Linked DNA regions of Homo sapiens. The protein of the gene in region 1 purifies or fractionates together with the protein of each later gene. This does not show direct contact. Each region holds a gene or a part of one and is shown on either strand. Other genes may lie near its edges. The genes, in order: MORN5, CHST15 and DHTKD1.

What was found.
Region 2: the proteins of MORN5 (region 1) and CHST15 purify together in Homo sapiens (affinity purification with mass spectrometry; 2 studies listed by BioGRID and IntAct, with this or other methods). This does not show direct contact.
Region 3: the proteins of MORN5 (region 1) and DHTKD1 purify together in Homo sapiens (affinity purification with mass spectrometry; one large-scale study listed by BioGRID and IntAct). This does not show direct contact.

Annotation. Positions count from the first base shown.
Region 1 is NC_000009.12:122,166,389-122,170,116, forward strand, and holds part of MORN5 (MORN repeat-containing protein 5), read left to right. Parts: intron 1-379; coding exon 380-527; intron 528-3,256; coding exon 3,257-3,368; intron 3,369-3,728.
Region 2 is NC_000010.11:124,044,990-124,048,717, reverse strand, and holds part of CHST15 (carbohydrate sulfotransferase 15), read left to right. Parts: intron 1-1,993; 5' UTR 1,994-2,505; coding exon 2,506-3,051; intron 3,052-3,728. UniProt on the Homo sapiens protein: Sulfotransferase that transfers sulfate from 3'-phosphoadenosine 5'-phosphosulfate (PAPS) to the C-6 hydroxyl group of the GalNAc 4-sulfate residue of chondroitin sulfate A and forms chondroitin sulfate E containing GlcA-GalNAc(4,6-SO(4)) repeating units.
Region 3 is NC_000010.11:12,089,454-12,092,953, reverse strand, and holds part of DHTKD1 (2-oxoadipate dehydrogenase complex component E1), read right to left. Parts: intron 1,442-3,500; coding exon 1,270-1,441; intron 1-1,269. UniProt on the Homo sapiens protein: 2-oxoadipate dehydrogenase (E1a) component of the 2-oxoadipate dehydrogenase complex (OADHC). Participates in the first step, rate limiting for the overall conversion of 2-oxoadipate (alpha-ketoadipate) to glutaryl-CoA and CO(2) catalyzed by the whole OADHC.

The DNA.
Region 1 (3,728 bases):
ATGGGGGACAGAGAAATCACAGAACTAGCTGCCAGAAAACCTGGGCTCTAGTGTCCACAGTTTTTACTGTGTGTGGTTTTGGGCACATCTCTACGCTCTCTGGGCCTACTAGGGGGGTTTATTTCAGGGAGCAGTGTGAACTCCAAGGTGAGAGTGAGCCTCTAGGTGAAGGGGAGAATGAACAGAGCAAACTCTATTCCCCTCTTTTCGTTTTTGAGCTTTTGAGGGAAACAAAACAAAAATTTTGTTTTCAGCAGAGTACTGCTGGGATGAGAAGGATGAGAATGCTGAGAACGGGGTTCCTGCTCACTCTGTTGCCTGCCAGCTCTGATCCTCCAGCTGTCACACAGGGCTCAGTGATTTCCCTGTGTCTTTACAGGATGGAGGGCAAAGCCAAGTACATCCTCCCTACCGAAACAATATATGTTGGGGAAATGAAGGATGGCATGTTTCACGGCGAGGGAACCCTGTACTTCCCCAGCGGAAGCCAATACGACGCCATTTGGGAAAACGGATTGGCCATAAAGGTGATCAGCTGGGGGGACGGATGCTGTGGAGGAGAGATCCTCACGCAAGAAGAGCCTCACCCTCTGGCACCCCATCCTCCCTGTCTGGTGCCCACCTTGTTCCATTCACTCTTCTCTTTGCTTCTCCCCCACTCCCCCCACTTTTTTTTTTTTTTTTTAGTCTCACTCTGTCACCAGGCTGGAGTGCAGTGGCACAATCTCGGCTCACTGCAACCTCCGCCTCCTGGGTTCAAGCGAGTCTCCTGCCTCAGCCTCCCGAGTAGCTGGGACTACGGGCGTGCACCACCATGCCCAGCTAATTTTTGTATTTTTAGTAGAGATTGGGTTTCACCATGTTTGCCAGGATGGTCTCAGTCTCTTGACCTTGTGATCCACCCGCCTTGGCCTCCCAAAGTGCTGGGATTACAGGTGCGCAGGTGTGAGCCACCGCACCTGACCTTTTTTTTTTTTTTTTTTTTTGAAAACGAGTCTCTGTCGCCCAGGCTGGAGTGCAGTGGTGTGATCTCAGCTCACCACAACCTCTGCCTCCTGGGTTCAAGCTATTCTCTTGCCTAGGCCTCCTGAGTAGCTGGGATTACAGGTATGTGCCACCATGCCCGGCTAATTTCTCCCTGCTTCTGGATCTCCCAGGGCTCTAGAATCCTCTCCCTCTAGATCTGGAAGGATCTGTGGAGAGGCCATGATGAGTTTGCATCTGTTACACCACTTACTGCCTGATCTTAGGCCCACGACTTCACCTCCCTGAGAGTTCTTCACCTATCAACTCGGGACAGTTAGTTGCATTAGTTATGTGTTGGTACTATAACAGGTTACCACAAATTTAGTCTGAAATCAGCACAAATGTATTATCTTACAGTTCTAGAGCTCAAAAGTCTGAAATAAGTCAGCAAGCCTGCATTCCATCCAGAGGCTCTACGGGAAAACCTGTTTCCTTGCCTTTTCCAGCTTCTAGAGGCTGCCTGCATTCCTTGGCTCATGGCCACGCATCACTCCGACCTCTGCTTTCATCATCACGTCACCCTTCGTCCCTCTGCTTTCATCGTCATCTCTTCTTCTCTCACCCTGACCTTACTATTTCCCTCTCATAGGAACCTTGCAATCATATTTGGCACACCCAGATAATCCAAATAATCTTCCCACTTCAGGATCCTTCATTTAATTGCATCTGCAAAATCCCTCTTGCCATGTAAAGTAGCATATTCACAGGTTGCAGCAGACAGGGACATCTTTGGGGGACCATTATTCAGCCTACCACAATAGTACAAGGCACCTCAATATATATATGTGAACACTTTGCTAAGTTCCCAGCACACAAGAGGCACTCAATAAATGTTAGCTCTTATTACCACCATCACTGCTACTATCATTATAACTTACCTAATCCAAGGATTCTTACCCCCTGGTATTTGTGAGTCATGAATAGAATTCAGGGAGTCACTGAAACCTCTTGATTTATATACAGAAGTTTCTGTGTAAAGGGGACTAAGTTTTTCTCCAGGAAAAGCATCTATAGCTTTCATCAGTTTCACTAAGAGCATCTTGGGGCCTGACTCATGACCTAAAAAAGGTTAAGAAAGGCTCCTTGTTTTATAGCTTGGAGAGTCTAAGCCCCAGGAAGGGGATGTGACTTTCCCGAGGTCACACAGTGAATTAATAGTATCATTGGAATTTCCACCCGTGTTTCCTGATGCCCAGGCCAATGCAATTTCTACATCCTGAGGCTTCCTTTAGCAGTAAGGCAGCAAAGGCAGAATGTATGTGTTTGGACAAAGGGCCGTGGCTGATGGCTCTGACCTTTCCAGCTATAATAATAATAAAAGAATAATAACATTTATTGAGTGCTTACTTTGTGTCAGTGTGTCAGTCAGGGTTCTTCAGAGACACAAAACCAATAGGATATATAGAGATGTATGGAAAGAGATTTATATTAGGGATTGGCTCACAAGATTATGGAGGCTAAGAAGCCTCCCAATCTTCCCTCTGCAACCTGGAGGCCCAGGAAAGCTGTTAGTGTAGTTCCAGTCCAAACCCAAGGGCCTCAACCAGGGGGATCAATGGTGTAAGTCCCAGTCAGAGTTCAAAGGCCTGAGAACCAGGAATGCTGATGTCCAAGGGCAAGGAAGATGGATGTCCCAGCACAAGCAGAGACAGGGAATTGGCGCTTCCTCTGCCTTTTTGTTCTATCCAGACCCTCAACGGATTGTATGGTGCCCACCCACTTTGGTGAGGGTGGAACTTCTTTGCTCAGCCCACCGATTAAAATGTGAATCCCTTCTAGAAACGCCCTCATGAACACACCCAGAAATGTTTTACCAGCTATCTGGGCATCCCTTTCACTTAACCCAGTCAAGGTGTCTCACAAAATCAACCATCACAGCCAGGCACTGTGCTAAATGCTTCACGTGTGCTATCTCATTGAATTTTCAATCAACCCTATTTTATGTACACTATCATTAACTTAATTTTACAAATGAGGAAATGAAGGGCCAGAGAGAGTGGGTCGTCTGCCCAAGTTCATCTGCCAAAGTGAGTTCACCCACTTTGAGCGGCAGGGACAGGGCTCGGCACTTATACCCATTCCCTCTTGTCGTCACAACCATAATAATTGTGATAGTTACCACTTCTTTACTGCAGCCATCAGAAAGGCCCCCACTTCCCTTGACATCTGAACCTCTTGGCCAAAAGCCTTCAGCTTCCTCAGATGCACGTGTGTGCTCCTTGTCTTCCAGGGCACATATACGTTCTCAGATGGGCTGCACTATGATGAGAAAAACTGGCATTACTGCGACGGCTATGATCGGAGGTTTTACACAGAGATCCTCAATGGCTTGAAGCCTGCAGGTACCCAGGCACCCACCCTTTCCTTCATACCCAAACTGAGAGGGAAACTAAGACAGTTTCGGATAAGTGGACTGTGTCCTACTAAAGTAACTTAAAGGGGAAGAGGAACTGAGCAGGCGTAGAAGAATGCAAAAGAGCCAGGTCCTGGAGCCAGGAAGGCCAGTCCTCATATCTCAGCTCCACTGTGCTAGCCAGAGGACCATGGGCAAGGGACTTTACCCACTGCGCCTCAGTTTCTCCCCTTCAAAATGGAGTCAATCAGCTGGGCGTGGTGACTATGCCTGTAATCCCAGCACTTTGGGAGGCCAAGGCGGGTGGATCACTTGAGGTCAGGACTTCCAGACCATCCTGGCCAACATG
Region 2 (3,728 bases), on another chromosome or scaffold:
TGAGCTGCTGGTTGGAGTCTCATTTTTAACCCCGGCTTGGCCCTGTCTTGGACATGTGAAAAAATGTTTTCTTGGCTTTAATGATGGAGTTTCCAAGTAGGGGATCTTGCCCTTTTGTTTCTTTAGTTTGGAAGAATTGTTTGTAGCAAGCGATGGGTCAGGGGTGGTTGAGCAAGTTTGAAGCAGAGGTTGATCCTTGAGGTTTCTGACATGTCCCTCCAGCTGCCCTCAGGGATAAGAGATGGGGGTAGGGCCTGAGATGTCTGGCCTGGCTTCCCAGAACTGGCCCCTTCTGCATCCCCGCCCCAGCGCCTCTGCAGGACTCAGGTCTCAGCCTCTACTGACCAGCCTTTCTCAAACTGGCTCCTTGATACCCTAGTGAGATTCCTTGGCCAATTAGGTACTTCCAACTTTGTGTATTATATTCCTCTCTTGTGGATTCACAGGGCTTATTAGCATATCAAAGGCCCTGAAAAGTTCAGCTGTAAAGAATTCTGTGTAATTTTGTCCATTCCACATTTTCTCCAAATAATTTAAGCACAGAACACTCACCAACGGCAAGCAGAACATTTTGTGGGAGGAAGACATTTTGGGAAACACAGCTTGGCTGTTTCTTGGCCACCATATTTTGAGAAAACATGAAGTTTTCAGTCCAAGGGGCATGAACATTTCTTCTGTTGAGTTCTGATTGTTTAATCCTTCAGCCAGTACATGGCGATCTTGATGCGCGGTTAGTTAATGCTGCCTCTATGGAGACAGTGAGGGTTGTTTGAGGGGTGGCGTGGGTAGAGTTGGAGATGAGTCTACCACTCTTGGGTAATTTTCAATTGCTAAAGAATAATCATGTGGTATAGGATCTCTCATCTTTGATTCCATTTCAAATGTTTTTGGCATTCACTGACAATGAAAAATCATCATCATAATAGTTGATGATGCTATTATTATCAATGCTGTCTACCTTTTATGGTATGCTAAATATGTGGCAGGCATTATTCAAACTGTTTACATGTAGTAGCTAATTTAGCACCTGTTAAGGTGTCCTTATTATCCTAATTTTACTATTGAGGAAACCAAAGCTCAGAGAGGTTATGTGGCTTGCTCAGGGTCACACAGCCAATTAGTGGTGATCTACCACTGCTAGAAACTGAGTAGGTCTCCTTTTATGCTTATCCATGGCTCTTTCTACGACATCTACAAAGAAGTGTCATTTGGGCAACAATATATTTTATAACCACAGGATTCTATTAATGGGTTTTTAAGAATCATATCTTGCTCGAGATGATGAAAGTGAAAAATTATGTCAGGTTCTGAAGCTCTGTGTCACTCGAGGGAATCCTATACATTGGATTTAATTGCTTAATAACTTAAAGTCAAGTAGTTTTTTAATATGATACATTCTACTGAAGGAGAGACTCATTTCATTGTTTCTAAATTTTCATTAACTTTTGCTTCCTAATCTGATAATAAAGGTTAACTCTAAGAAAGAGACTGCTGATGCCAGTGAGAGGGAAAAAACACATTTTCTCTGCCTGCTCCCTTTCTAACCATCCTCCTTAGTATTCTTGAGATTTTTCATTGACTGAAAAGCACTGATATTTCAATCCATCCCTCAAATTTGTAGTCATTGACTGTGCATGACTCTGAGAATGATCACAACATCCTGGGATTCAGAGATCCTGTACCTGAGAAGTATCAAGGCAGAGGGATTAGGGGAGATGTAGACTATGCACAATGTGAGACGTTTGATGTGGCGCTGGTGGTGCTGGGATTGGGGCCATGTTTGGTGGCAGAAATTGAGCCCCAAAGCCAGCTGCAAGAACCTGAAACCTCTTCCTTTATGCTCGCGATTTTCTATGACTTGCTTAGAACCAGGCTGGCTTGGCTGGACTTAGAGGTGGAAAAGAGAGTGAGCATCTGTCTCTCCTTGGAGGATGAGCTTTGGGTTATTGCTATTACCACACAATGTAATAAAGCTTCTTGTCTTTCTGTGTAGGAAATCTGGCATTTTTTAAAGTTTGCGCCCCACAAAGAGGAAATATTCCAAAGGTACTCAGGATGTAAAAGGGGAGATCTTCACAGATGCCTCCGTGGATGGCATGGCAATCCATCCATCAATGAGAAGACCATGATTTCTTTTAATTTTCTGTGTGTTTCCACATTCCCCAGTGAGAATTCTTCCACCTTTTTTTGTGCCATGGGAAAAACCTGAAGGGCAGGCAGAGCTGCTCCCGAACTTGTGACCTTCTCTGAGGTTGCAGCGGCTCTTGTAGAACATGACTCTGGGACATCACTTCCTTTTGTTTTCTTTCGGAGCTGAACCAAAGAATGTGCACCCTCTTTCTCTAGTGCTGTGGTGTCTGCTTATTTTTGTATTTGTGCTTTCCATCCATCTTCTGTGATCACAAGGCATTCTTAAGGTTTTCTAGCACGACTTGCGGACATCCAGACTCGTGGGGGGCCCACCCATGGCTCGGTAAGCCAGCAGCCCAGGGCACTGGCACTACCATGAGGCACTGCATTAATTGCTGCATACAGCTGTTACCCGACGGCGCACACAAGCAGCAGGTCAACTGCCAAGGGGGCCCCCATCACGGTCACCAGGCGTGCCCCACGTGCAAAGGAGAAAACAAAATTCTGTTTCGTGTGGACAGTAAGCAGATGAACTTGCTTGCTGTTCTCGAAGTGAGGACTGAAGGGAACGAAAACTGGGGTGGGTTTTTGCGCTTCAAAAAGGGGAAGCGATGTAGCCTCGTTTTTGGACTGATAATAATGACCTTGGTAATGGCTTCTTACATCCTTTCTGGGGCCCACCAAGAGCTTCTGATCTCATCACCTTTCCATTACGGAGGCTTCCCCAGCAACCCCAGCTTGATGGACAGCGAAAACCCAAGTGACACAAAGGAGCATCACCACCAATCCTCTGTAAATAATATTTCATACATGAAGGACTATCCAAGCATTAAATTAATTATCAACAGCATCACAACTAGGATTGAGTTCACGACCAGACAGCTCCCAGACTTAGAAGACCTTAAGAAGCAGGAGTTGCATGTGAGTAGCTTTGTGCTAATCTTGACTGATTGGTTGATTTTTAGAAATGAGTGCTTTTCTTTCTATCACCATCTTTGGGAACACAGAAGGAAAATGACTAAAAAATGTCTTAGATGTAGCAAGGATCATTTGACAGCCTTATGGATTTGAATGCACTGAGAGAGTGCTGTTTGCTTACGCTATGGAGTGCCAGGAAGGGAATCTGCTGTCCTGAACGCTGGGCTAGGCATGTTCAAGGGCCGCTGGCTCTCATTATTGCATTCCAGGACTTCTTGCTTGATATGTGGTCGTGGTAGTTAACAGTTGCTTTTGCAGATCACCATCATTTGGGATTTTAAAGTTGCGTTAAATTTGATTTTCTGCTTCTATTCTACATTTTAATCTCTAACGGCAATTTAAATATACAACTAGTAAAAAGATTCTGCTTAATTACCGTGTGTGCGTGTGTGTTGTGTAAGTGTCAGAAAGGTAAATTATGGTAGAATGGATTTTAATTAAACTTTTATCTTTATTCTCTCCAAGTTTTTTTTTTTTTTTTTTTTTTTTTTTTTTTTGTGGGGCGGCGGGGGAGAGGAAAGCACAGTCATTGACCGTCTACCAAGTTTTGCTTTATTTGTTAATCATTGTCAAATATTAGTTCAAATTTGAACACGGTCGTCAGTCTCAGGGCAGGTTCC
Region 3 (3,500 bases), on another chromosome or scaffold:
GTGAGCCATGATTGTACCACTGCACTCCAGTCTGAGTAACAGAGCAAGACTCTCAAAACAACAACAACAACAAAAAAACCTACCAATTTCCACAGATAAAAAAGAAGCTGACTTTGATTCTTCACATCTTATTTCTTTTTTTTGCCCTTTGAGATGGAGTTTCGCTCTTGTTGCCCACGCTGTAGTGCAATGGCCTGATCTTGGCTCACTGCAACCTCCGCCTCCCAGGTTCAAGTGATTCTCCTGTCTCAGCCTCCCGAGTAGCTGGGATTACAGGCATGCACCACCATGCCCAGCTAATTTTGTGTTTTTATTAGAGACGGGGTTTCTCTATGTTGGTCAGGCTGGTCTCGAACTCCCAAGCTCAGATGATCCACCTGCCTTAGCCTCCCAAAGTGCTGGGATTACAGACGTGAGCCACTGTGCCCAGCCTTCACATCTTATTTCTAACTATACTATTTCACCAAGTTTAGTGGTTGAACACATCCCTTATCACTAAGCCCCTGGGCACTCCAAGTTTGAATATCCTAGAGATAACAACTCTGGTGTTGTACTCATTGTGTTGATCTCTGACTTGTACCAGATCACCCATCCAGTTATAAGAAATTTGAGATGGCACACTGTGGCTCCATCCTTGTCTTATTTCTTTGGATTTAAAAATCACACTGATAGGCTGGGCATGGTGGCTCACGCCTTTAATCCCAGCACTTTGGGAGGCCTAAGCAGGCAGATCACCAGAGGTCAGGAGTTCAAGACCAGCCTGCCAACATGGTGAAACCCCGTCTCTACTAAAAATACAAAAATTAGACAGGTGTGGTGGTGTACACCTGTAGTCCCAACTACTTGGGAGGCTGAGGCATGAGAATCACTTGAACCTGAAAGGCGGAGGTTGCAGTAAGCCGAGATCACGTACTCCAGCATGGAGTACAAGCTGGAAAGGGCAACAGAGCAAGACTCCATCTAAAAAAAAAAAAAAAAAAAATTAGCCAGACATGGTGGTGCACGCATGTGGTCCCAGCTAATCAGGAGGCTGAGGCAAGAGAATCACTTGAACTCGGGAGGCAGAAGTTGCAGTGAGCCAAGATCGTGCTGCTGCACTACAGGCTGGGTGACAGAGCAAGACTCCATCTCAAAAAATTAATTAATTAATTAATTAATTAAATGAAAGGAGGGATAACCAGTGAGGCTCATTGTTCTGTGTGCACCAGAGGTTTCCCTAGGAATTCCATGTCGGCTTCAGCAATATCAGTTCCTCCCTGTGTTACGTACCAATATCACTGCAGTATAAAGAAGACCTTCCTCTTTCAGCTGGAGTGGTGTAACCCAGCTGGTTATTAACAATCAAATGCACACTCCCACCAATTCTGAAATGTGGGAGATTGGACAGCGTGAATGTTTCAGGAACAATCCCTTGACCACAGAAAGAAGCATCACCATGGACCTAAATCATGAGGCAAGGGGAGCGGGTGGGGAGAAAAGAAACATAAGGGATTAAGAAATCTAGGTTTTCAGGTTGGAATAACTTTTTTTTTTTTTTTTTTTGAGACAGAGTCTTGCTCTTTCGCCCAGGCTGGAGTGAAATGGCACGATCTCAGCTCACTGCATCCTCTGCCTCCCGGGTTCAAGTGATTCTCCTGCCTCAGCTTCCCTAGTAGCTGGGATTATAGGCATGCACCACCACACCCGGCTAATTTTTTGTATTTTTAGTAGAGGCGGGGTTTCACCATGTTGGTCAGGCTGGTCTCAAACTTCTGACCTCAGGTGATCCACCCTCCTTGGCCTCCCAAAGTGCTGGGATTACAGGCATGAGCCACAGCGACCAGCCTCATTTATCATCATTTTAAAGAAAATGGCCTTTTCACCTTTTATTTCAGAAGTCAATCTTTTTTTGTTTTTTTTTGAGACGGAGTCTCGCTCTGTTGCCCAGGCGGGAGTGCGGTGGCGCAATCTCGGCTCACTGCAAGCTCCGCCTCCGGGGTTCACGCCATTCTCCTGCCTCAGCCTCCCGAGTAGCTGGGACTACAGGCGCCCGCCACCACAATCTTAAGATCAGCTCAATGTACTGGGTAAAAATGAAGGATTAAAATAGAGTATTATAAATTATGTGAAAGGTAAACAGAATGTCTGGCTAATGATTTCAAGATTTCTATTTAGAAACACCCTATCAGGCCAGGTGCAGTGGTTCACACCTGTAATATCTACACTTTGGGAGGCCAAGGCAGGAGGGTTGCTTGAAGCTAGGAATTTGAAACCAGCTTGGCCAACCCAGCAAGATCATGTCTCCACAAAATAAAATAAAATAAATCAGCCAGGTATGATGGCATGCACCTGTAGGCCCAGCTACTTGGGAGGCTGAGACAGGAAGATTGCTTGAGCCTAGGCATTTGAGCCTACAGTGAGCTATGATTGCACCATTGCACTCCTGCCTGGACAAAAGATTGAGAACCCATCTTGAAAGAAAGAGAGAGAAAGAAGAAGGAAGGAAGGAAGGAAGGAAGGAAGGAAGGAAGGAAGGAAGGAAGGAAAAAGGAAGGAAGGAAGGAAAAAAGGAAGGAAGGAAGGAAAAAAGGAAGGAAGGAAGGAAGGGAGGGAGGGCCGGCCATATCATAATGAAATCCAATTCTGCCTACTCCCAATTTATTCACTACAAGTTTCTGGCCTGTGAAAAATTAAAATGCATAGGATAACGTGGCATTTACAAACATAGAATATTTGATTGCCTTATATATTTATCTATTTCTGTGGAATTTGAAGACTGATTCTGAAATCCAGGTTTCATGATCTCCTGTAGTTAAAGGTTCATATTTAAATGAATACTCACAGAAGAAACATGACCACAGCCCAAACCTCTAAAAGATACTTGTTGTGTTACCAAAAACTGGGAGACAGGGTAGAAAAAGAACGAACCACACTGATAATTTGTGTTATGTGCCTTAATACCAAAGACTTTCATTTTCAAATAAACAAGCAAAAAAAAAAAATAGGCTAGGTATAGTGGCTCATGCCTGTAATCTCAGCACTTTGGGAGGCTGAGGTGGGAGGATCACTTGAGGTCAGGAGTTTGAGACCAGGCTGGCCAACATGGTGAAACCCTGTCTCTACTAAAAATACAAAAATTAGCTGGGCGTGGTGGCACGTGCCTGTAGTCCCAGCTACTCGGGAGGCTGAGGCAGGAGAATCACTTGAACCCAGGAGGCAGAGGTTGCAGTGAGCTGAGATTTCGCCACTGCACTCCAGCCTGAGTGACAGAGTGAGACTCGGTCTCAAAAAAAAAGCCATAAAAAAGAAAAGATAATAAAGTAAACAAGAAACGAAGTAAAACCACACTTAAAGTCTTTTTTTTTTTCACGCTTGTCTTGTTATATGTATGGGAACCACAAAGTTTCCAAGAAGGCCATACTTCCAGAGAGATAATGACATCTGTGCTCTAAGAAGGAGCAGGTTTGCCAGCCCAAACCCCAAGTTAATTCATAAGCCATGCAAGGAAAACAGAAGTGGAA